Homo sapiens: one gene and its partners. The protein of the gene in region 5 purifies or fractionates together with the protein of the main gene of each other region. This does not show direct contact. Each region holds a gene or a part of one and is shown on either strand. Other genes may lie near its edges. The genes, in order: PEX14, SEC13, LIMCH1, DSG1, STK38L, PFKP and CALU.

Region 1 (3,500 bases), on a different chromosome or scaffold from region 5:
CAAACAAACAAACAAAGTTTAAGGCTGGACGCGGTGGCTCCCAGCACTGTGGGAGGCCGAGGTGGGTGGATCACTTGAGGTCAGGGGTTCGAGACCATCCCGGCCAACATGGCAAAACCCTGTCTCTATTAAAAATACAAAAAAATTAGCCAGGCATGGTGGCGGGCACCTGTAATTCCAGCTACTTGGGAAGCTGAGACAGGAGAATTGCTTGAACCCAGGAAGCGGAGGTTGTAGTGAGCCAAGATTGCACCACTGCACTCCAGCCTGGGCAACAGAGCAAGACTCTGTCTCAAACAAAAAAAAAAAGGAAGGAAAGGAAAAAAAAAAAAGACTAAAGAGACAAATCAATGCAATCTCTGTTTCTTCACTAGATTCTGATTTTTTTTAAGTGTGAAAATTTGAGTGCAGATTCTGTTTTAAATAATACTATTTATCAACACTTAAATTTCTTGTGTGATAATGATATTGTGGTTATACAGGGGAATAACCTTACTCTTATGAGAGATAAGGTGAAATATTCTAGGATGAAATATCCTTGATGTCTGTAACTTACCACAAATCCTTCCAAAAAAAAAAATATATATATAGAGAGAGAGAGAGAGAGAAAGAGAGAGAGAGACTGACATAAAGCAAATTCAGCAAAATGTGAACAGTGCATCTTGGTTAAGTTTTTATGGGAATTTTACAGAAGTTCTCAGTATTATCCTTTCAACTTTTCTATACGTGAGAAATTTTTCAAAATAAAAAGTTGAGGCCAGGTGCCAGGCTCACACCTGTAATCCCAACACTGTGGGAGGCCGAGGCAGGTGGATCACCTGAGGTCAAGCATTCAAGACTAGCCTGGCCAACATGGCAAAACCCCATCTCTACTAAAAATACAAAAAAATTAGCTGGGCATGGTGGCGGGCACCTGTAGTCCCAGCTACTCAGGAGGCTGAGACAGGAGAATCGCTTGAACCCAGGAGGCAGAGGTTGCAGTGAGCCGAGATTGTGCCACTGTACTCCAGATCGGGAGACAGAGCAAGACTCCGTCTCAAAAAAAAAAAAAAAAAAAAAAAAGTTAGCCAGGCGTAGTGGCACACACCTGTAGTCTCAGCTACTCAGGAGGCTGAGGCAGGTGAAGCAGGAGAACCGCTTGAACCTGGGAGGCTGAGGTTGCAGTGAGCCGAGATTGAGCCACTGTACTCCAGCCTGGGCAACAGAGGGAGACTCCATCTCAAAAACAAAACAAAACAAAAAAAAAAAACATTGAGAGGGCAAATACCTTGTCTGACCTGCTGTTATTCAAGAGTTCAACAGACTCTCAAAACTACATGTAAAGACTGGGAGAAGAAAACTAACTCTGAGCACTTACTATGCAGCAGGTGCTCTTCACATCTGTGATTTCAGTCAACACTAAAAGGGTAATTATTTTTTATTTTATTTATTTATTTTTTAAGTGATAGGGTTGCACTCTGTTGCCCAGGCTGGAGTACAGGGGTTTATTCACATATGTGATCATCGTGCACTACAGACTCCAACTCCTGGGCTCAAGCAATCCTCCAGCCTCAGTCTCCTGAGTAGCTGGAACTACAGACATGCACCACCACACCCAGCTTTAAGGGTAACTATTATTGCTCTCGTTTTACAGAGGAGAAAACATACTCAGAAAGGTGGAGTGATAAGTCCAATAGTTGTGAGTGATGAAGTTCCACCAAAACCTGCCAGGATGCGAAGCCATGCTCTTCCACTCTTTCACTCTGCTCTTCTCCCTGCCTGCTTCTGTAGCCTCTCAATGCAAAATTTACTGTACCCAGTGAACCTCCACAGATAGGAAATCTACCTTCTGCAATAATACTCGATACTCAGTAACTGTGAAGTAATCAGATTGAACCATGCCTCTGCTGTTCAGCGAAGGAAGAAAAGCTAGTAGGAAAGTTGGGAAATAGAGATAACGTTTCTCATTCCTACGGGCTCCAACGTGTACACACTAGAAAGGACTTCAATGAGAGATCAGCCATGCTGGCTGGGCGTGGTGGCTCATGCTTATAATCTCAGCACTTTCTCTCTCTCTGTCTCTTCCCCCGTCCCCAAACAGGGTATTGCTCTCTCACCCAGGCTGGAGGGCAATGGCACAATCACCGCTCACTGCAGCCTCAACCTCCCAGGCCCAAGTGATGCTCTCACCTCAGCCTCCAAAGTAGCTGGAACCACAGGCAAGCACTACCATGCCTGGCTAATTTTTTAATTTTCAGTAGGAACGAGGTCTCCCTATATTGCAAAGGCTGGTCTCAAACTCCTGGCCTCAAGCGATCCTCCCAACTCAGCCTCCCAAAGTGCTAAGATTACAGGTATGAGCCATCACGCCCAGCCAGGAACTCACCACTACAAAAATTGTTTTAAAAATACATTAGCCAGGCCAGGCACAGTGGCTCACACCTGTAATCCCAGCACTTTGGGAGGCCGAGGTGGGCGGATCACGAGGTCAGGAGATCGAGACCATCCTGGCTAATACGGTGAAACATCGTCTCTACTAAAAATGAAATAAAAAAAAAATAGCCGGGCGTGGTGGCAGGTGCCTGTAGTCCCAGCTACTCTGGAGGCTGAGGCAGGAGAATGGTTCGAACCCGAGAGGCGGAGCTTGCAGTGAGTTGAGATCGCACCACTGCACTCCAGCCTGGGCGACAGAGCGAGACTCTGTCTCAAAAAAAAAAAAAATACATTAGCCAGGCATGGTGGTGCACACCTGTAGTCCCGGTTACTCAGGAGGCTGAGACGAAAGGATTGCCTGAGCCTGGGCGGGCAAGGATGCAGTGAGCCATGATCACACCACCGCACTCTGGTGACAGAGTGAGACCCTGTCTCAATCAATAGATCAACCACATAAAACAGAGCAATGTGGGGAACACAGAACAAAGGAAGCAATAAATGAAATTCCAGCAAGTCGTCTTGAGGATAGACTAAAAAGACTATACCATTATGAAAAAGTAAGTATGTTCCTGAAATGCAAAAGTCATGAAGGACAGCTAGAATAAACACTAGCATTCAGGGCATTCCTTGAAATTTTAAGGAATTACTTCTGAATAAAAGAACTTTACTAGACAAGTAGTCAACACATGAAAAATCATACCCCAAAAGATGTCGTAATAGAACTTGAAGAAAGGTTTAGATCCATTTGTGAGTGAAAACTCAGAGCTTATTAAATTGAATAATAATAATAATAGACAACACATTGTTTCAGGCACTGTTCTGGCATTTTTACATAAATAACTCATTTAAGGCCAGGTGCAGTGGCTCACGCCTGTAATACCAAGCTCTTTGGGAGGCCGAGGTGGGCAGGTTACCTGAGGTCAGGAGTTTGAGACCAGCTTGTCCAATATGGTGAAACCCCATTTCTACTTAAAAAAAAAAATTAGCCAGGCCTGGTGGTGCATACCTGTAGCCCCAGCTACTTGGGAGGCTGAGGCAGGAGAATCACTTGAACCTGGGAGGCGGAGGTTGCAGTAAGCCGAGATCGC
Region 2 (3,500 bases), on a different chromosome or scaffold from region 5:
CATCAGATCTTGTGAGACTTATTCACTATCAAGAGAACAGCATGGAAAAGACCTCCTCCCATGACTCAACTCCCACTGGTTACCCCCTACAACACATGGGCATTCAAAATGAGATTTGGGTGGGGACACAGCCAAACCACATCATGGGGCTTTGCCATGTTGGCCAGGCTGGTCTTGAACTCCTGAGCTCAGGTGATCCGCCTGCCTCAGCCTCCCAAAGTGCTGGGATTACAGGTGTGAGCCACTGTGCCTGCCCTGGGCCCAGCCTTTTAACCCTCATTTCGTCTTAGTTCTCTACAAGTAACTATATATTTATGCTGAAGTCTTTGTAGTCATTTTAGTTGTGTGACTTGTATCCTCTAGTAGATTTCTCAGGAAGGGCTCCTAGAAACAATAGTCCCTGAATTCTTGCATATTGATAATAGTTCATATCCTTTACACTCAAAAGCTAATTTTAAAAACAGCTTTGATATAGTATAATTGACATAAACTGCATATCAAGTGCATGATTTGGTGAATTTTGACAAAAATATATCCTGTAGGATCATCACATCACCTCAATCAAGATAAGGAACATGCCCATCATTCCCAAAAGTTTCCTCGGATCCCCTGGTAATCCATCTCCCCATCCTGCAGCCCCCAATCGTGGTGACCATGGGCCTGCTCAGCTGCATTTCCTAGATATTACAGCAGTGGAATCACAGTGTGTCCTTTTTCTTCTTTTTTTCACTCAGCATAATTATTTTGAAATTTATTCTTCATCTTATTTTGTTAAGTCATTTCTTTTTATTGCAGTCATTTCTTTTTATTGCTCGCAGTATTTCCAAAGTATGGATATATCACAACTTATCATTTACCTGTTGATGGACATGTGGACTATTTCCAGTTTTTGGCTATTAAAGCTGCTATAACCTTTTGTGTATAAGTCTTTGTGTGAACTTCAAAGTCAATTTTCCTGGTTATAAATCCTTGGCTCACACTTTCTTTCCTGGAGTATTTTAAACATGTTATTCTTTTTTCTTCTGCACCAATCCTTACTATTGAAGAGTCTGACAATAATCTAATTGTCTTTCCCCTTTAAGTCACAAGGTTCCTTTTCTCTAGAACCCCCCAAAATTTTCTTTAAAGTCTAATAATTTTACTAGAATTATATCTTTTTGTTGGTGATGCTGAGTTGAATTTTTTTTTTTTTTTTTTTTTTTAGAGACGGGGTCTCACTATGTTGGCCAGGTTGGTCTTGAACTCCTGGCCTCAAACAGGAGTTCACCTCGATCTCCCAAAGTGCTAGGATTACAGGCTGAGCCATCACGCCTGGCCTTGATTTTTTTTTTTTTTTTTTTTTTTGAGACAAGTCTTGCTTTGTCGCCCAGGCTGGATTATAATGGCGTGATCTTGGCTCTCTGCAACCTCTGACTCCCGGGTTCAAGCAATTCTCTTGCCTCAGCCTTCCGAGTAGCTGAGATTACAGGTGTGCGCCACCACGTCTGGCTAATTTTTGTATTTTTAGTAGAGACGGGGTTTCGCCATGTTGGTCAGGCTGGTCTTAAACTCCTGACTTCAGGTGATCCGCCCACCTCAGCATCCCAAAGTGCTGGGATTACAGGCTGAGCCACTGCGCCCGGCTGATATTGTTAAGTGTGGGGTATGATCTCTCAATCTCAAGTTTCAAATCTTTGTTTTTTAATTTTAAGAAAGTTTTCTGGATTACTTTTTGGTATTCTGTTTTCCTTTCCAGGGACTCCTGGTATTCGTATGTCTGACCTTTCTGCCTGTCTTTACTTTTGGTCAAAACCTTTTTACCTCTTCATTTTTTTGCTCTTGAAATGTTTCCTTTTTCACACTGTTTATCCTTTTCAGGCAGGATCTGCTGTGTTCATCGACACTTGCATTTCGTCTTAGTCTTTCTTTACTTCTGAAATGATTTTTAATTCTAATTCTTTCCTGAGTTCTGTCACCTTATTTCTGATTTTTAAAAAGTTGATTTACACTATTCTCTCTTGTTTTGTATTGTTAGAATGTCACCTGGCTTGATTTGAAATAGCAGGTTACAGCTTGGCTCGGTTATGTGGGCATGTCTTTCTAATGTGCTCTCATTGTCCGCAGGGAGGTTATTTTGCATATTCTTGTTTCTTATATAACAACTGTATGCAATTTCACTTCAAATACTTTTCTGTTATTTTTAGGTGAGATGAGTTTTCCTGATAAGAAAGGCTCAGGAAAGTCTAAGCTCAGAACTCTCCCTTGTTTCTGTGTGGTGTTAAAAAACGTGGGAGATGGCTTTCAGGAGTTCCTGTCTTTGTTCCTCTTCCCCACATTGGTCTACATCTCATCCTTCCTTTCCTGTGTCCCTATCCAGCTCAACTGTGATTTCATTTCCTGCAGTTCTTCCTCCTGAGGGGCCCTGTCCCAGAGGCTTGCTCTGGAGGATCACAGAGCTCAGATTTCTTCCCGCCCCTTCAGCCTTTCTTATTGTGGGCCGCTTCCACTCACTCGGTGTTACAGAGTGCAAACCCCTCCTGGTCATTTCTCCAAAGGCCCCCAGAAGATGCTCACCATCATCTTTGATTAGCAAAATGCAAATAAAAATCACAATAAGGGCCGGGTGTGGTGGCTTACACCTGTAATCCCAGCACTTTGGGAGGCTGAGGTGGGCGGATCACTTGAGGCCAGGAGTTTGAGACCAACCTGGGCAAAATGGTGAAACCCTGTCTCTACTACAAATACAAAAATTAGCCGGGTGTTGTGGCGTGTGCCTGTAATTCCAGCTGCTCAAGAGGCTGAGGCATGAGAATTGCTTGAACCTGGGAGGCGGGGGTTGCAGTGAGCCGAGATCATGTCACTGCACTCCAGCCTGGGTGACAGAGCAAGCCTCCGTCTCAAAAAAACAGAACAAAACAAACCCAAAAAATCACAATAAGATACCACCTCACATTCACTAGGACAGCTGTAACCAAAATGACAGACATATGTTAGTGAGGATGTGGAGAAATTAGAACCCTCATACACTGCTGATGGGAATGTAAAAGGGTACAGTTACTTTGCAAAACAGTTTAGCAATTCCTCAAAAAGTTAAACACAGAATTACCATATGACTCAGCAATTTCACACCTAGGTATAGACCCAAGAGAATTAAAAACATATGTTCATGCAAAAACTTATCTGCAAATGTTCATAGCAGCATTATTCATAAGGCCGAGAACATCCATCATCTGATGAATGGATAAACAAAATGTCTATATTCACAATGGAGTATTATCCAGCCATAAAAAGGAATGGAGTGCTGATACACGCTATGATATGGATGAAACTTGAACTCATTATAGTAAGTAGGAGAAGCCAGTCACAAAAGACCACAGATTGTCTCATTCTATGTACAACTGATCCTCAATTTCATTTCATTATAATGCTGACAAGATTAAAAAAAAAAAAACAACTCCCAGCGGGGGCCCCTGCCTGTGTGGAGTCTGTGTGTTCTCCCTGTGTCTGCGTGGGCTCTCTCC
Region 3 (3,500 bases), on a different chromosome or scaffold from region 5:
TTTCTCAGGACTTAATCAAGAAAGAGGAAGAAAGGAAAAAAATGGAGAAGTTACTGGCTGGAGAAGATGGGACAAGTGAACGAAGGAAAAGCATCAAAACCTACAGAGAAATTGTTCAAGAAAAGTGAGTTCTTTCTGTTGTCGTTTTTAATGTACAATATTATCTAGGTGTTTTTTTTTTCTAAAAATTATTGGCTGTCACAAAGGTTCTGATAGTAACATTTTATATTCCCTGTACTATCTCTTCAGTGCTACCTTCGTTTCTACCAAGGTCTTCTTTGCAATTTTCATTAGTTGACTTTGTTATTGCTTCTCCCATGTCCTTTAGAGAGCGGAGAGAGAGAGAGCTGCATGAAGCATATAAGAACGCTCGGTCCCAGGAGGAGGCAGAGGGGATCCTTCAACAGTACATTGAGAGGTTCACCATCAGTGAGGCTGTTCTCGAACGCTTGGAGATGCCAAAAATTCTGGAAAGAAGCCATTCAACAGAGCCAAATTTATCCTCCTTCCTGAATGACCCCAATCCCATGAAATACCTGCGGCAACAGTCACTGCCTCCACCCAAATTCACTGCCACTGTTGAAACCACCATTGCTCGTGCCAGTGTTCTGGATACCAGCATGTCAGCAGGCAGTGGGTCTCCAAGCAAAACTGTCACTCCCAAAGCAGTGCCTATGCTGACACCCAAGCCTTACTCCCAGCCCAAAAATTCTCAAGATGTTCTGAAGACCTTTAAGGTAGGACAAGTTCCTTAAGAGTAGAACCAAAGCTGAACTCCAGGGAGTGGATGGAAAGAAGCATCATGACTCAAGAAAATGTCATTCTTTTTACCATACAAAAGAAAAATGTGTTGACATTTACAGCTGTGAAAGTCATAGGTCTCTGGAGATTTGGTTTGTAAATGCTTCAGGGACAGCTGTTTCCCTCAATTGCTGTTGTTAATACAGATGGACTCCTATAAGACTGATAGTGGAGTCGTCTCCATGAGCAAGGTCTATTTTCTAGTTTGATATAATGGCATGATTTCTCTGTACTAGTGGTAAAAACCCTAATTTAGTAATACCCTAGTATTTCTAGGTATCAGGAGGTATGGCAGACTCCTCAAAACAAAATTTTATTTGCTTTTGGTTCAAATAGAAGTATATGCAGCTACCTCTCTTTTAGGAAGAAATTGGCATTCAGCATCCATTTGACATTGTAGCATCCAAAAAGATTTTACAATTGATAAAAATACAAGGAACACATGGGAACATGGGACATACTTGGTCCTCAAATGAGACAGGTTTTTTAAACAAGTGGAAAGAAACTGGGTTGTTTTGCTAATGAGTGTGTAAAATAGTGTTCCAGACTGAAGAACTTGTGGAAACCAAACATCTTTTCGCTTCCTCAAATTCAAGTACTTTCTCTTATATCAGGAGGAAGCACTCATCCTTTGTCTTAAGTTCTTTTGACTTGTAAAGAAAAATCAGTTCCCCTTGTCCTTGCACTCAATGAGTTTGTAATAAACAGAGGTGGAATGCATCACTTGGAGATGTGACCATTAGATAGAAAAGTTTTCGTAACTGATTGAGCAGTGTGATGCCACGTAGCTTCCTTGCTGTATTTCAAAGAGAACAAAACCACACTTTCTGACTTTTGCTGAAATAACTCTGAATGTATCTCAAAAATCTCTATCTTAGGCTTTGATAGAACAAAAATGTCCAGACTGTCTCATCTGGATCACATTGAGCTGTTTGTCCCCTTATAAGGGCAGGGGCCATGTCTCTGTCATTCATGGCTTCATCCTGAGAGCCTGGCACAGGTGCCCAGGACAGAGTAGGCACTCAGCAAGTGCTCCTTAAATAAATAAGTGAATTTTTCCTGAGAAGATGAGCTACTAATCATATGGACTCACACACACACAGATAGACACACACATGCTCATGTGTGCTCAGTGGTCCACCTAAGTGTTTCAGAAGCTTTCCTTCACCTAGGGCCTATGATAATGAATGGCTATGGTATTTCCTGAAGGAAGATTCTATGTTGAGGTGGCCCAGAATAGGATAGAGAATACATTTATTTAACTGGATTTCCAAGGCATCTGACCAAACATTCTAGATGTCCACTTTCCCTCCTTTATCTAAATAGTGCAAAGTGATCGTTTAAACAGAAGGATTAGCATAAATGATTTTATGGCAGAACTTCAGCTCTGAGAAAACTCTGTTCTTCACCATGGCGGCAAAGTGGAGCAAGGTGGTATGGCGGCCTCAGGAAGCACTTCCATGGAGGGGGTTATTAGAGAATTTGAGCAGAGGCCCTCTTAGAGCTGGAGATTACTCCTCATCACTCACTAGTGGGGGTCCCCTGCCTCATTGTAGGCCTCACTGGCTAGTATTTCTACTGATGGCCTACAGTTCCATTACTGAGTGCATGGACAGCAACTTTGGTCAAAGGTCAAAGTAACATGCAAATCAGACCGTTGTTACCAGCTAATAATGCCAGGACAGAAGCTAAGGGGTAGGGGTGTGTGTGTGTGTGTGTGTGTGTGTGTGTGTGTGTGTGTGTCTTCTTGGAGGGCAGGGCAGGGAATACAGGCCCCGTTGTTTTTCCAGTACAACAGAATTAAGAATAAAGGAAGATCAAGAGAAATAGTTTAAGGCAGTGTTTTTCAAACTGAAAGTTACCACCCGTTGCTAGGTTATAAAATCAGTTTAGTGGTTTGAAGCCAATATAAAAAAAAAAGAACTAGAATAGAATATAATAAAAAAACATAGTGTGTCACACAATGAAGGCAAAATTGCTTGGGGCAACTTCTGTTTCAGTTATATTTATGTGTGTGTGTGTGTGCTGAGTTGTGATTTAAATTTCTTTTTATGGGTAACAAATAATAGAGTAAAAAGACCAGTGGCTTAAGGTAAATAAACTATAACTAATATCCAGCCTTCCATTATTTCTTTTAAAAGATTTTAAAAGGCCTAATGAGGCTGGGCGAGGTGGCTCACACCTGTAATGCCAGCACTTTGGGAGGCCGAGGCAGGCAGATCACTTGAGACCAGGAGTTCGAGACCAGTCTGGACAACATGATGAAACCCTGTCTCTACTAAAAATACAAAAATTAACCAGCCATGTTGGCATACGCCTGTAATCCCATCTACTTGGGAGGCTGAGGCATGAGAATTGCTTGAACCAGGAAGGTGGAGGCTGCAGTGAGCTGAGATTACACCACTCCACTCCAGCCTGGGTGACAGAGTGAGACCCCGTCTCAAAAAATAAATAAATACATAAATAAGAGGCCTAATGATAATAATGGCTAATAGTTAAGCACTTAAAATGTGTCAGGTACTGTTCTAAATTCTGTACATTTGATAATCCATAAAATCTCCATAACAGCACTATGAGGAAGATACTGTTACTTTAAATTTTGCATCAGAGCACAGAGAATAGGAAACCTGTTGAAGATTCCATGCCTGTTAAATGGTAGAGCCAGGTTTCAATCAGGTCACCTAACTGCACAGCTCCCT
Region 4 (3,587 bases), on a different chromosome or scaffold from region 5:
GGTAAGATTTTGTGCAAGATGAAGTTGATAATAGTCTGGAAGTGGCATTGGAGAACAAAAGGAGATGCATCCCAGTAAAGATGAAAGGGTATGATTTAAAGGGCAAAAAAGAAGAAAAGTCATTTTAAAAGAAATAAAATGCTGGTGTAGGCAAAAATAAAAATGCAGAGTATGAAAGAAAGAAAGGTAAAAGTATAAAGATGCTACAAGTATTAAATAAGAACTAAAAATGCAGCTTTTTATCATCTGTTCATTTGTGGGGCTAACCACCTGGTCAAGGCTGGGCTCTAGCATCTATAATTAGTGGTCCAGAGAGTAGGTTCCTCAGTACACATTAAAAAAAGATAGCTAGGAAATGGAGAATGAAAACATATTTTAACATTGTGAAAATAAAAGAATTGTATCTCCTCCAATACAGGATGATAATAACTAGATTTGATAACTTTGGTTTTACAGTCTAAAACCTCCCCCTTGCTTACAATTCAGAAAAGATAAGGGAGGCATATTAATAATTTTATTGCTGTATGCATAACTCTTTGGAAATTACAAATCAACTTAAAAAAACGAACAGATAACCAAGCAAGAAACTAGCACCCAAATAATCCAAAAACTTTTATATTGAAACTTGAATAAGAGAACCTTGTGTTAAACACCACCAGAGATGAATATTAGAATTTTAAAATGCTTGTAAAACGACAGCAAAAGAAAAATAAGTTAGACTAGGTACAGTTTGACGATAAAGCATTTAGTAATTCAAATACAGCTAAACTGGGGAGAGAATGTAGACAAACAAGATTACACATTGTTTTAAAATTATCTGATGGAAAACAGGTTGATCTAGTCAAGATTTGTCCTAACATAAATTGAATAATCCGGAAGTGGAAGACAGATTTGATTTCAAGGAGAGTAGCACTCTACTGTGGACTGCTGTATCCTAGTGCAATGTGAAATGGGTCTTAAAAATCCAGAAATTGTAAAAAAAAAAGTTGGAATTTATGAAATAGGCATGGGAAAATGTGGCAAATACTTTTAAAAGTTTGCTTTGGGTCTTAAATGTCTTTCCAAAATAGTCATGGCCATTTATGCTAAAGATTATAATGCCTTTCAACTCCAGCAAAAGTTAAAGGGTGTCATATATTTTGTACCATGACAATCAAACATTGGTATAAATTCAGAAATAAATTGCCAGATAACTAAAAACATCTACTTACTAGAGTAAAAAATGTAATTTTTGAAGACATATAATTAAAATTTTGTCAGAACATTTTCTTGAATAAAAATTATGATGCTAAAAACTTTATACACAAATGTAGAACAGATGTCTAGATGAAGATATATAAATAACCCTAAATATGTACTTTTTCTTTTAATTTTTCAGTGCAAATGCAATTACATCAGACAACATGCTTAGAAGTAAATAATATGTAGCAGATATATCTGTAATTCAGTGTCAAAATTAGCTTGAGATGGTATTTTGGTTGATATTAAATGGTAAAGTATTTATAATACACTGATTTTTGCTCCTAAAGATTACCTCTTTAGACAGTCAGATAGATATTTTATAAACATTGTGGTTTGTTTTCAAACCATACATACATAGTATTAAATTACTATTTCTTTTTCCTTTTGTTAAGAGCAAGTTGATCTGAAACTCAGCTTGAATCCTAATTATAGTATTCACTTATAAAATAATTTCCATATCTCTTCTTGGTCTATGACATGATGTATATGATCTAGAGTAAACATCTAAGAAGAAGAATGAAGTTCTGCCCAAAACTTCTTCATTGAAAAATGACATGCCTTTAAATAACTACTAAAATCGTTGATGTCTTGAAAAGGGAATTTTAAAATTTAGGACTAAATGGAAAATCAGTGTGCAATCCTGGAAGAAAAAATTAGTTGGAAAGTATCTTCCCAGAAAGATAGGTGACTAATACTTCAGTTTTTCTTGTTTTTCCCATCAATTTGCAATCCTGGAAGAAAAGTTTGGTTAGAAAGTATCTTCCTAGAAAGATAGATGACTCAATGACTCAAATGGCCATGTTTTTTCTTGTTTTTCCCATCGTTTAACAGTGTTTAGGAGTTCAGATGTAACTAAATTGGGGGGATCTTAACAACCAATGGATTTTGACAGCAACAGTTATTAAAGACAGTGATTTTGTTGTTTGCAAGACAACCTAAAAAATATCTCTGGAAGATATCAGATGTCTTAAGAAAAGCTTGTGATGATATTTCATATCAAAACAGTAAGCAAGTTTCCTGTGGTCAGCTACCATTCCCTTTAATAAATTACTTAATTAATTCATTAATACTTATTTCTATTCCTTAAAACTCCTGGACCCAGGCATACTCAAGTATGTCTTAATAAATACCTTTTGACTTTATTCCTGGAAAGATTACCCATCCTTAATGTGGCCCCCTAAGTGTCAGAAAAAGAAAAGACTCCCTTTGAATGACTTTATTTATACTTCTGCATTTAGCATACTACAGACTATCAAAATTTTACATATTCTACAGAGTTAAAAGAAGATGTATACTGTGGCTTTTAAAATATTAGCCTTATCTGTTGTTACAGAGCAAAATAGCTCTAGGTTCAGTAATTCACTCCTATCCTCTTTTGACCAGTGGAGGAAGTTGAATATTCTTTGGCTTTGTAATTTCCTGGGAAATTTGAGTAATTGGGGTAAATTCTTTAAAAGTTGTATATAATTCACAACTCCAGGGCAAATTTTTTTCTAATTTTATTTTGTCATATAGAGTTTCATTTTAGTGAGCTTATAGTAACATTGTATTTAAGAAAGAAAAAATTTCTGTACCATGCAATAGTAAATTTACCTTTTTCTTAGAATGCTTTAATTCTTTTTAGAGATTTTTAATTGGGTAATACTACATAGCAAACACACAGAAATGATATATCATAAATAGGACATTACTAAATTTTGAAACTAGAAAAATATGTTATACTATATAATTTGGACACTACCTATAAATCAGCATATATAAGCCAAGATCTTATTGACAAATCAAATCAGGAATTTAAAATTTATGCTAGTGAGAAAAATTAGAGGGTGAGATAAACTAGCAGAATAGGTTTCTATTATTATTTCATGCTTATCAACACCATATTGTCAATTCTGCTAAAGGTTCCTGGTTGATTCCTGCAAAATGGCAGCAGAGGTTTGCTAAAGCAACCACTACTTTACTTACTAAAAGCGAATAATTAGCATGGTATTACTTTACAGAAGAATTCTTTTCCAACTTTCACCATTAAACATTTTACATGTTCTAAAAACATTTTTTTAGATCCCCTTAAAAAAAAATTCCCCAAAGCTTAAGCATACTACAAGCTGCTGCTTCTTTTTTTTTTGTCCACAGCTCGGCCTATGTAAATCATTTTAACTTCAGAGCTATGTAATAAAGAGCTGGATACGAATGAATATCACCTACTAAAAACAAAACCTGAAAACACAATTCAGTTCCCATCTGCTTACTTGGAAGGTCATTTGCCACTAGTGATGACAACCATGTCAGGCCTCACTTGCTTCAATTCGAGAAGTAAACTTAGTGAGTTTTGCTTTCTTAAGTCA
Region 5 (3,500 bases):
CTATCTGAGGATGGCTTACTACTGGAAAAAGCAATATATAGAGGAGTTAAATTTTCACTTGTATTTATTTTGCATGTTTATCATGTGCAAGGCTTAGTGGTAGGTAGTGAGTCAGATAATATGTTATAGACTACTATTTTTCAGTCTATTTACTTTCCTGAGGGAATGCTGAATTAGTTTTCCTTTCATCACTTAGTTGAACAAATATTTATAGAGTGTCCATATGTGCCAGGCATTTTATAAGAATATATCATTTCTGCCCCCACAAGAAGCTCAGTTAAGTTATTTATATATATAGCCTTCAGTCTATTTCAAAAAGAATGAAAAAGTTGAACCTAGAAGACCTGGCTTCCCCACTCACTACTAATGTGTTCTTGGGCAAATTATTCAATTTCTCTGAGGCTCAGCTTCTGCTTACATAAAACTAGAATAATAATACCTGCCCTAATAGAGTTGATATGAAGATGAAACAATAAACGGCATGTGTTTTGTAAACTACAAACTACAAAAATAAGCATGAGGTATTTTCATTATAAATGTAATTCCAGGGTACTGCTTATCCTTTAGGAAGCTATGCAGTTTTTAATTCTTAATTCATATAAAATCTTACAAAAATGATTTCTACAAGGCAGTAATTCTCAACCAGGGGTAGTACTCTTGGGGCCATGGCAAAATGTAGGACCACAGATTTTGTCATCTCAGTGACATAACTGGCATTTACAGGGCAGGGGATCCAGGTGCTAAAGAAATTTCCTGCCCCAAACACTGAGTCCTCTCTACTTCTCCCTTGGGAAACACTCGATCTAAGGCTTGGCAACTACTGGCCATGAGAATAATAAAACACACACCTGAGTAATCACCCATGAATATTTTGTAAATAGGGGGGTACAGAATTCCCCCACCATAATTTTGAGCAGTATTCAGTTTTTCCCCTTTAAAAATAGGGAATATTGCAATTATTCTCAATTGCAAAACCTGATCTAAAATGGACACATTTTAAAAGTAGAACAAAGTTTTTCTCCTTAATGTGTAACTCAATACATTTAAAAATACTGAAATGTTTTACAAGTTTTTGCAGTTACTTAGGTTAATGAGATAATAAGCTCAATAATGCAAAGGTCATTTTATTTGGTTTTAGAGGGTATTAGCCTATTATTTTTCAGTCTGTTTACTTTCCTGAGGGAATGCTGAATTAGTTTTCCTTTCATCATTTGGTTGAACAAGTATTTATAGAGTGTCCGTATGTGCCAGGCATTTTATAAGAAATGAGAAAAAGAAAATCCTAAGGCACATTCTTAACCTGTAGACTGTTGATGGACCATGTTAACAGGACAAAGGGAAAGAGGAGAAAGGGGAAGCAATTCTTCTATTTGCTCAGTTATAGAAAGGAAATAGTATGGGGTTAAAAATAATGTAATTCTATATTAAAGGAGTAATTAAATTTATCTGTGGCAAAGCCAGCTTTTTCAAATTTTATCTGTTTTATTGTAACACTGTTTACATCCCAAACTTCCTGTTTACTTTGTCTATAAAGAAGTTTTTAGAAACTCACAACCACCTTACTTGCTGATTGATATTTGTTGTATCAGGATTTGTAACACAGTTATGAAAAATGGAAAAATGGAAATCACAAGGCATTCATTACAATTGCATTCACCTCAGTGAGTTTTATTTAAAGTGCTAATTACTAGTAAACAGCTTACTTGTAGGTATGCTCAGTAAACTACTCTAAAGTTACAAAGTAAAAACCAACACTTTGCTTTACAGGCAAGGAAACTTAACAGAGAAACTAAGAAAACTGTGTGATCCCAGAGCAAGCGCTACCATTGTTATGAAGTAAATACTAATTATTATAAAGATAAAAATAATCAAGTTAAAACCAGGTAAGATTTTAGAACCAAGGCATAAAATTCTCTTAAAAACTGGTTGACTCACCAGTTGTCTCCTGTTCTTCTTCCAAGTTTCTGCTTTCCTCTTTGAGTTCATGTTCTGAAATGCTAATTTCAACAATATGGAATTGTAATCACGAGGGAAAAATGCTCTCCACAAAAAGAAAATACATATACATCTAAAACACAGTGGATTAAGGAGTGGGGAAAGGGAAAGAACCTTCTGTTCTCTACAGTATCTTAACCAGGGGAAAGAAGAAAAACAACAACCAAACTTACAGAAGTCACTTGGTGGGTTGTGTGTGAGATTTCTATAAAATTCAGTCCTGTGAGCTTTCTTTAATCCCGTACATAAACCAAAATCAGATAATTTTACATGACCCTAAAAAAAAATCCAGTAAAATTAGATCATATTAACTTTGAAAACAAAAAGCCTTGTTATAAACTCCTCTATTAAATGGCAATTATAATAAAAATTCTTAGCTTGGGATTTATACACGTAAAATGTAAAATTTTAAGTATCTGATGATGATTTTTAAAAGTAGAAAATGGAGGGAGATAAAAAGAGAGCCATATTCCCTGTTGTCATTTAATTCCCAAGTCCTCTCCTAGTACCTTATCATATAATGTTGTTTAGCAATATTCTAAATTGCAGTTGCTGATTTCCATTCACAAAATCAGCCCTACTGCTCTAAAAAATAATCAACAGCCTAGTAATTCACCAGTTTATTCACATGCCTTGGCATCCAATAAAAGGTTGTCTGGCTTAATATCCCGATGGATGAAACCCAACTGGTGGATCGCATCTATTGCCAGAACAGTCTCTGAAATGTAGAACTGTGTTTCCTCTTCTGTCAAGGTGTCTTTCTTCATTAGCAATGTCATCATGTCACCTAAATAAAGGATAGTCAAATATATTATTATTGAAAATGCCTCAAAGGTGGAATACCTTGTAAAAGCTTTCCTGCTTTTTTTACTTTTTTTTTTTTTTTTTTGGAGACAGAGTCTCACTCTGTTGCCTGGGTTGGAGTGCAGTGGTGTGATCATGGCTCACTGCAACCTCCGCCTCCTGGGTTCAAACAGTTTTCATGCCTCAGCCACCCAAGTAGCTGAGATTACAGGTGTGCACCACCACACCCAGCTAATTTTTGTATTTTTAGTAGAGATGGGGTTTTGCCATGTTGGCCAGGCTGGTCTCAAACTCCTGGTTTCAAGCTATCTGCCTGCCTTGGCCTCCCAAAGTACTGGGATTACAGGCATGAGCCACCATGCCCAGCTAGCTTTCCTGAGTTTGCATTTTATGATCTACCCAGTATATTTCTAACCACATCTTGGGACAAATAAAAGTGCTATTGCATAGCAGAAGTTTCATGACTTTTAATGGTTTTAAGGCAGAGACCATGTGAAATCAAATCACAAAAGAGCTGATAATGAAGTAATATCTACCACTCAACTTCTAGAATTAACTGCTGAGGAAAATGTCAAACTGCAAAAAAATCAGAATAAGTGCACCTGGAAACGAAATATATTCTTTTAGAGTTTAGTGGGACATTATCCCACTAAAAAAGGCACCTGCAGACATTCTTTTATTTTCAAGGAATTTTAAAAGTT
Region 6 (3,500 bases), on a different chromosome or scaffold from region 5:
ATGCCTGTAATCCCAGCACTTTGGGAGGCCAAGGTGGGCGGATCACGAGGTCAGGAGATCGAGACCATCCTGGCTAACAGGGTGAAACCCCATCTCTACTAAAAATACAAAAAAAAAAATTAGCCGGGCATGGTGGTGAGCGCCTGCAGTCCCAGCTACTTGGGAGGCTGAGGCAGGAGAATCGCTTGAACCCGGGAGGTGGAGGTTGCAGTGAGCCGAGATTGCGCCACTACACTCCAGCCTGGTGACAGAGTGAGATTCCATCTCAAAAAAAAAAAAAAAAAAAGAAAAAAAAAAAGTAAAGAATAGATGAACTCTAATGAAATAATCTGGGTCTATCTTTTACCTCCTCCATTGTCTGGAGTAATAAAGCTCCCTGCCTCGCCCTCTCTCACAGCACTGAGCCACTTTTCCTGAATTTTCCCACACTCCTGATCACTCACTTGTTAATTTCAATGCATAAATTCTTTTTGAGAAATAAAGTCAGTTTGCCGACTCCTCCCGCTGCTTTGTTAGAAAATGAGCTTACACCGCGCTGATCTCACTACTGCTGCCAAAGTTCCTTCTAGGGGTCTTTCCTTTGATAATGTAGGGATTATGTAGGCATGGGGAGGTGGGATGCCAAAGGCAGATTCTGTCAAGGTGCTGTTCCCTCCCCACCCCTGCCAGTTCAAAGTCATCGAACTGGGGGGCCTCTCTGACCTCCTGGACTGTGCAGACCACCGTGTCTTCTAGTAGGGTCAGGGGAGGGCTTGAGATAAATCTGTAGGGCTCTTCACTCAACCACCAACCCACTGTCCAGCTCGGGTGCCCCAAGTGCCACCTCTGCTGGGCTCTGTGTGGATGCATCAGTGACAAGATGGGAAGCCTCTGGCCCTGGAAGAGCTTGTTCCGATCAGGAGAGACCCGAAAGCAAGAAACACAGTGAACAAATGCATGATGCCCATGGATGGATGGCCGTAAGTGCTAAGGAGAAAAATAACAAGCGGGGTGGGGGGTGTTGAGGGTGTGGAGGACAGGGAGGGGCTGCCATTGACAATCGGAGAGCCTGCAGACCTGCCTGAGAGTGACGTTTGGAGAAAGAAGGAAAGGGAAGAAGTTGAGGGAGTTTAGCCAAATGGACATCTGGGAAAGAGCTCAGGTAGCAGAGGGGCTGGGGCGGGGGCGCGGCGGCAGCATGCTGCATTCCAGGGTCCTCTGCGTGGCTGGGACAGTGTCGGCCCTCCCCTGCACATCCCTCAGAGCCTTCGCAAAAACACCCACATGGGGACCTTCTAAATACAGGCAGCACACGCCACCCATTGCGTGACCACACTGTCCCTCAGAGGAGCCGCTGGCCACGTGCGTCCCGTCCACATGGAGATGTGCTTTAAGCTTCTTTACACACTGGGTTTCAAAGACTTACTACGGAAAACAGTGTAAAATATGAATAATCTACAATAATTGATTGTTATCAAAATAGTGGATTGAATATAAAACATAGTTTTTTGCTTTTACCGGTTTTTACTTTTTTTTTTTTTTTTTTTTTTTGAGACGGAGTCTCGCTCTGTCGCCCAGGCCGGACTGCGGACTGCAGTGGCGCGATCTCGGCTCACTGCAAGCTCCGCTTCCCGGGTTCACTACTTTTTTTTTTTTTTTTTTTTGCGATAGGGTCTCACTCTGTTGCCCAGGCTGGAGTGAACTGGTGCAGTCACAGCTCACTGCGGCCTCCAACTCCTGGGCTCAGGCAATCCTCCCACCTCAATCTCCCACGGGGCTGGGACTGTAGGTGTGCACCGCCACGCCTGACTAATTGTTTTGTATTTTTTGTAGAGACTAGGTCTTGCCATGTTGCCCAGGCTGGCCTCAAACTCCTGGGCTCAAGTGATCCACCTGCCTTGGGCTCCTGAAGGGCTGGGATTACAGATGTTGAGTCTTGGCACCCAGAGTCCCCCACTCCCGGCCCCCTGCCCCGCCTTTCTTTAATGCGGCAACTAGATCATTTAAAATTGCATATATAACACAGGCCACCCACATGCAAGCCTCACTCTTGGGAGATTCTCCCGTTGGAGAAACCTCCAAGAAGCTGATCTGCCTGGATTTGCAAACTGCCCCACTGGCTCCAGAGGGAAGCCGCTCTGGAATCGGCTCTTCAATACTGCCCTTGAGTATACTGTGTACCTCTTGACTTTCGACCAGCACAAAGCTCCTTATTAAACGCTGACAAAAATTCCTTCCATTCTGTTGGGAGCAGGCCCCCCCAAATCTGGCCATAAACTGACCCTAAAACTGGCCATAAACAAAATCTCTGCAGCACTGTGACACGTTCATAACGGCCCTAACGCCCAGGCTGGAAGGTTGTGGGTTTATGGGAATGAGGGCAAGGAGCACCTGGCCCACCCAGGGTGGAAAACTGCTTAAAGGCATTCTTAAGCCACAAGCAGTAGCATGAGATATGTGCCTTAAGGACATGCTCCTGCTGCAGTTAACTAGCCCAACCTATTCCTTTAATTTGGCCCATCCCTTCATTTCCCATAAGGGATACTTTTAGTTAATTTGATATCTGTAGAAACAATGCTGATGACTGGCTTGCTGTTAATAAACACGTGGGTAAATCTCTGTTCTGGGCTCTCGGCTCTGAAGGCTGTGAGACCACGGATTTCCCACTTCACACCTCTATTTGTGTGTGTGTGTCTTTAATTCCTCTAGCGCCGCTGGGTTACGGTCTCCCCGACTGAGCTGGTCTCGGCACATTCCAGGTGCCATAATGGAATTAATTAATCTCCTATTGATAGTTTTTTGCTGGTTTTCCCACTTTTTGCTATTCTAAGCACTGCTATGAAGATTCTCCTTTAACCCCCACCTGCCTGTGTCTGTTGGAGCTCACATGCTCTACCTTCCAGCTGTAACAGCTGAGTGCCCATTCACCCCAAGCCCTGACACACTCAAGTCTCTGGGTCCCCTTGGCGGGATGTGTCTGTGGACACAGGGCTGCCCTGCCACGTGCCCCACCCCATAACCTTCCATCTGTGGCCTGCTCCTTGTGATACCCTAAACTTGTGGCCTCCCCTCCCCTCCTCTCCTCTCCACAAAGCCACCCTTATCGGAGACAGTCAGTCTGCTTCCCTCCACCTGCTTCCCAGTTCACCCAAGGCAAAGCCAAAGTCCTCCACTGGGCCACTCTCCTCTACGGACTCCTCCCTCACTGTCAGGTCAGGTCAAAGGGCCCCAACCAGAGGTTCCCCTGGGCCCTTTCATAAGACAGGAGCTTTTCCTCTCAGGTCAGGCTACAGGCACGTCGTACCCGCACCTCACCACAGGAGTGACAGCTCCAGGCAGAAAGGGCCTGGTTCTTTTGCCAAAATCCTGTCCTGACTCACCCAAGGCAGTCTGTTAACATGCACAATGATTACAGAAACACAGAAATAAGGCTGGGTGCAGTGGCTCCAGCCTGTAATACCAGCACTTTGGGAGGCCAAGGCAGGTGGATCACTTGAGGTCAGGAGTTCGAGACCAGCCTG
Region 7 (3,500 bases), on a different chromosome or scaffold from region 5:
GTCCCACTTTATAAAAGAAAGGCATATTTTCAACCATTTTGAAACTAGAGTGTAAAAAGCTCCAAGATAATGAAAAAGAAACAATTAGAAATACTAGTGTCTGGATGGGCGTGGTGGCTCACACCTGTAATTCCAGCACTTTGGGAGGCCTAGGCAGGCAGATCACCTGAGGTCGGAGTTTGAGACCAGATCACCTGAGGTCAGGAATTTGAGACCAGCCTGGCCAAAATGGCAAAACCCCATCTCTACTAAAAATACAAAAATTAGCTGAGCATGGTGGTGCGTGCCTGTAATCCCAGCTACTCGAGAGGCTGAGGCAAAAGAATCACTTGAACCCAGGAGGCAGAGGTTGCAGTGAGCCGAGATCATATCACTGCACTCTAGCCTGGGCGACAGAGCAAGACTCCGTCTCAAAAAAAAAAAAAAAAAAAAAGAAAAAGAAATACTAGTGTCAGTCTTGAGAATGCAAATGCCTGAAAAAAAATGAATAAATTCGTTTGCATGTCAAAAGGTTTTAAATTCTTTGCTTTAAAAAAAAAAACCTTGAAAAATGGCCTAATTGAGTTTTAGCTAAGGGATCATTAAACATAATTTTTGGGCTGGGTGCAGTGGCTCATGCCTGTAATCCCAGCACTTTGGGAGGCTGAGGCGGGTGGATCACTTGAGGTCAGGAGTTTGAGACCAGCATGGCCAACATGGTGAAACCCCGTCTCTACTAAAAATAAAAAATAAAATTAGCCGGGCGTGCTGGCCCACACCTGTAATCTCCAGCTACTGGGGAGGCTGAGGCAGGAGAATCGCTTGAACCCCAGAGGCAGAGGTTGCAATGAGCCGAGACCGTGCCTGTGTACTACAGCCTGGGTGAGAGAGAGAGACTCCACCTTGAAACAAACAAAACCCATAATTTTTGATGATAGATTACATGATTTCTGGCATGTAACTCAAAAGGAGTTCCAAGAACTAAGCAATATTGCTATGACAAATCTTCCATCAACTTATTTACTAATGTAAACAAGGTCTGTTAGTACTTCCTCTAAAAAATAAAAATTAGGAATTGGTGCTGAATCCCATTTCACTCTAGGGATAAGTAATTGTCATCCATGGATATGAAACTATTTGAATAAAAATGTGTCAAAGAAATGCATTTAAAAATATATAAACATAAAACGTCTGTAATAAATGTTATTTTGTTCAATTGTGTATTAATAATTGTAATAGTAACTTAACACAGAAGACTCTAAAAACACTTAAGAGCCATATCACAGAACACCATTTTCCATATTTCAATTTACATACACAATGTTCTTGCAAATAAGAATGTCAAAGTGACTAAGGCTTCAAGATAAAATATGTCAGAATATAATTCTGTTGAGGAAGTAAACTGCAAATGAATCTAACAAATAGAAGGCTGACTTGTGAGTTTGAGATCAGCCTGGACAACATGGCAAAATCCCTACAAGAAATACAAAAATTAGCCAGGCATGGCAGCATGCACCTACAGTCCCAGCTACTCGGGAGGCTGAGGCAGGAGGATGGCTTGAGCCTAGCAGATCGAGGCTGCAATGAACCATGATCATGCCACTGCACTCCAGCCTAGGTGACAGAGTGAGACCCTGTCTCAAAAAGAAAAAGAAAAAAAAGAAACAGGAGGTCGGGTGGCTGATGTCTGTAATCCCAGCACTTTGGGAGGCCAAGGCAGGTAGAGCTCTTGAGCCCAGGATTTCCAGACCAGCCTGGGCAATGTAGGGAGACCCATGTCTATAAGAATAATAATAAAAAAAATCAGCTGGGTGTGGTGGTGCTCTTCTGTGGTCCCAGCTGAGGTGAGAGGATCACTTGATCTCCCCACCTTGGAGATCGAGGCTGCTGTGATTGTGCCACTGCACACCAACATGGGCAACAGAATGAGACTCTTGTCTTTTTAAAAAAGAAGAAGAAGAAGAAACAGGATGCGTGTAAAATGTCCAAGTTGGTTAACAGTTTATTCATTTATTTTTTTAAGACAATATCATGTGGTGACTGATAAGTAGTATAAATATCCCCAAATCCCTATAAATTTAAACAAAAAAAAGGGCAATTAAGTGATGGTCACATTGTTGCTAACCAAACGCCATAACTAAAAAAAAAAAAGTACCAAAGAAACATTTCCTTTTTAACTATTATGAAATGTAAAAAATTACGGATATTTTCTTATATACCCACAATGCCACTTTCATATTTTACAAAATCAATTCCTTGGTATCATCTAATACCCAGACTGAATTTAAATTTCTTGATTATCTTTTTAAAGTTGTCGTGTCCAAATTATTCATATGAAAGACGGCAGGTAAGAAGTTGCTATGGTATCTTGTATTTAAATTTTATAGATTTCTTTCCGAATTACTTTCAAAATGTCAATGCTTATCACCAACAGAGATTATTCTTTTTTCTTCTGAGACAGGGTCTTGCTCTGTTGCCCAGGCTGGAGTGCAGTGGTACAATAACGGTGCACTGCAACCTCAAACCCTCAGGCTCAAGTGATCCTCCTGAGTTGCTGGGACTACAGGCACACGCCACCATGCCTGGCTAATTTTTTCTTTTTTTTTGTATTTTTTGTAGAGACAGGGTTGCGCCATGTTGTCCAGGTTGTTCTCAAACTCCTGGGCTCAAGTGATTCACCTGCCTCAGCCTCCCAAAGTTCTGGGATTACAGGAATGAGCTACGGCATCCGGCCCAACAGAGACTATTCTTTACAACTGTTTAAATTTCTTAATTAAATATTTCAGATGCCAACTTTAAAACACATAAGGGAATGCTGTTGGTCAAATTCTTTCAGGAGTTATTTAAGTGAACAAGTCTGAAAATGCTTGAGTTATACGACATCTAAGTTAAGTGTACCTGCATTGCATGTAAGGTATGGGAAAACACCTAAAGAGAAATCTAAATAGTTCCTGCAAGTTCTAAGCAAAGGTAATTATTTAGTCAGTGCTGCCATTTTCCTGACCTTGAGGGTTAAGGGTAGAAGTACTCCTCTGTCTTAAACTCACAAGAGAAATTCCTCACAGCAGGACTTGCCAATTTTTTCCCATGCTACAGCACATTCAGAAAATGTAGTTTGTACGGTCCACTGGATCAGGTTCCTGCCCTAGCTGTCCTGAAAGCCAAGAAGACTTACTCACAGGATACAGATTGGAAAGTTCTGAATTAGGAAATAGACACATGCTTAAAAGATATGGTTTTAAAGGAAGCTAGAATACACAATACACTACAACGTAAGCGCATTTTAAAGCTAGGTGACCATGATAAACTATTTGAATTTCTATTTTTATTTATTTTACTTTATTTTTTTGAGACAGAGTCTTGCTCTGTCGCCCAGGCTGGAGTGCAGTGGCGCGATCTCGGCTCACTGCAACCTCCGCCTCCTGGGTTCAAGCGATTCTCCTGCCTCAGCCTCCTGAGTAGCTGGGATTACACAGGCACATGCCACCACACCTGGCTAATTTTTATATTTTTAGTAGAGA

Evidence for each region.
Region 1: the proteins of STK38L (region 5) and PEX14 purify together in Homo sapiens (affinity purification with mass spectrometry; one large-scale study listed by BioGRID and IntAct). This does not show direct contact.
Region 2: the proteins of STK38L (region 5) and SEC13 purify together in Homo sapiens (pull-down; one large-scale study listed by IntAct). This does not show direct contact.
Region 3: the proteins of STK38L (region 5) and LIMCH1 purify together in Homo sapiens (affinity purification with mass spectrometry; one large-scale study listed by BioGRID and IntAct). This does not show direct contact.
Region 4: the proteins of STK38L (region 5) and DSG1 purify together in Homo sapiens (affinity purification with mass spectrometry, with the first as the bait; one large-scale study listed by BioGRID). This does not show direct contact.
Region 6: the proteins of STK38L (region 5) and PFKP purify together in Homo sapiens (pull-down; one large-scale study listed by IntAct). This does not show direct contact.
Region 7: the proteins of STK38L (region 5) and CALU purify together in Homo sapiens (pull-down; one large-scale study listed by IntAct). This does not show direct contact.

What each region holds. Positions count from the first base shown.
Region 1 is NC_000001.11:10,477,950-10,481,449, reverse strand, and holds part of PEX14 (peroxisomal membrane protein PEX14), read right to left. Parts: intron 1-3,500. UniProt on the Homo sapiens protein: Component of the PEX13-PEX14 docking complex, a translocon channel that specifically mediates the import of peroxisomal cargo proteins bound to PEX5 receptor.
Region 2 is NC_000003.12:10,307,613-10,311,112, forward strand, and holds part of SEC13 (protein SEC13 homolog), read right to left. Parts: intron 1-3,500. UniProt on the Homo sapiens protein: Functions as a component of the nuclear pore complex (NPC) and the COPII coat. At the endoplasmic reticulum, SEC13 is involved in the biogenesis of COPII-coated vesicles.
Region 3 is NC_000004.12:41,646,157-41,649,656, forward strand, and holds part of LIMCH1 (LIM and calponin homology domains-containing protein 1), read left to right. Parts: coding exon 1-124; intron 125-328; coding exon 329-737; intron 738-3,500.
Region 4 is NC_000018.10:31,356,160-31,359,746, reverse strand, and holds the end of DSG1 (desmoglein-1 preproprotein), read right to left. Parts: 3' UTR 501-3,587; downstream 1-500. UniProt on the Homo sapiens protein: Component of intercellular desmosome junctions. Involved in the interaction of plaque proteins and intermediate filaments mediating cell-cell adhesion.
Region 5 is NC_000012.12:27,313,786-27,317,285, reverse strand, and holds part of STK38L (serine/threonine-protein kinase 38-like), read right to left. Parts: intron 2,783-3,500; coding exon 2,628-2,782; intron 2,272-2,627; coding exon 2,169-2,271; intron 1,998-2,168; coding exon 1,936-1,997; intron 1-1,935. UniProt on the Homo sapiens protein: Involved in the regulation of structural processes in differentiating and mature neuronal cells.
Region 6 is NC_000010.11:3,074,048-3,077,547, reverse strand, and holds part of PFKP (ATP-dependent 6-phosphofructokinase, platelet type), read right to left. Parts: intron 1-3,500. UniProt on the Homo sapiens protein: Catalyzes the phosphorylation of D-fructose 6-phosphate to fructose 1,6-bisphosphate by ATP, the first committing step of glycolysis.
Region 7 is NC_000007.14:128,763,359-128,766,858, reverse strand, and holds part of CALU (calumenin isoform a precursor), read right to left. Parts: intron 1-3,500. UniProt on the Homo sapiens protein: Involved in regulation of vitamin K-dependent carboxylation of multiple N-terminal glutamate residues. Seems to inhibit gamma-carboxylase GGCX. Binds 7 calcium ions with a low affinity.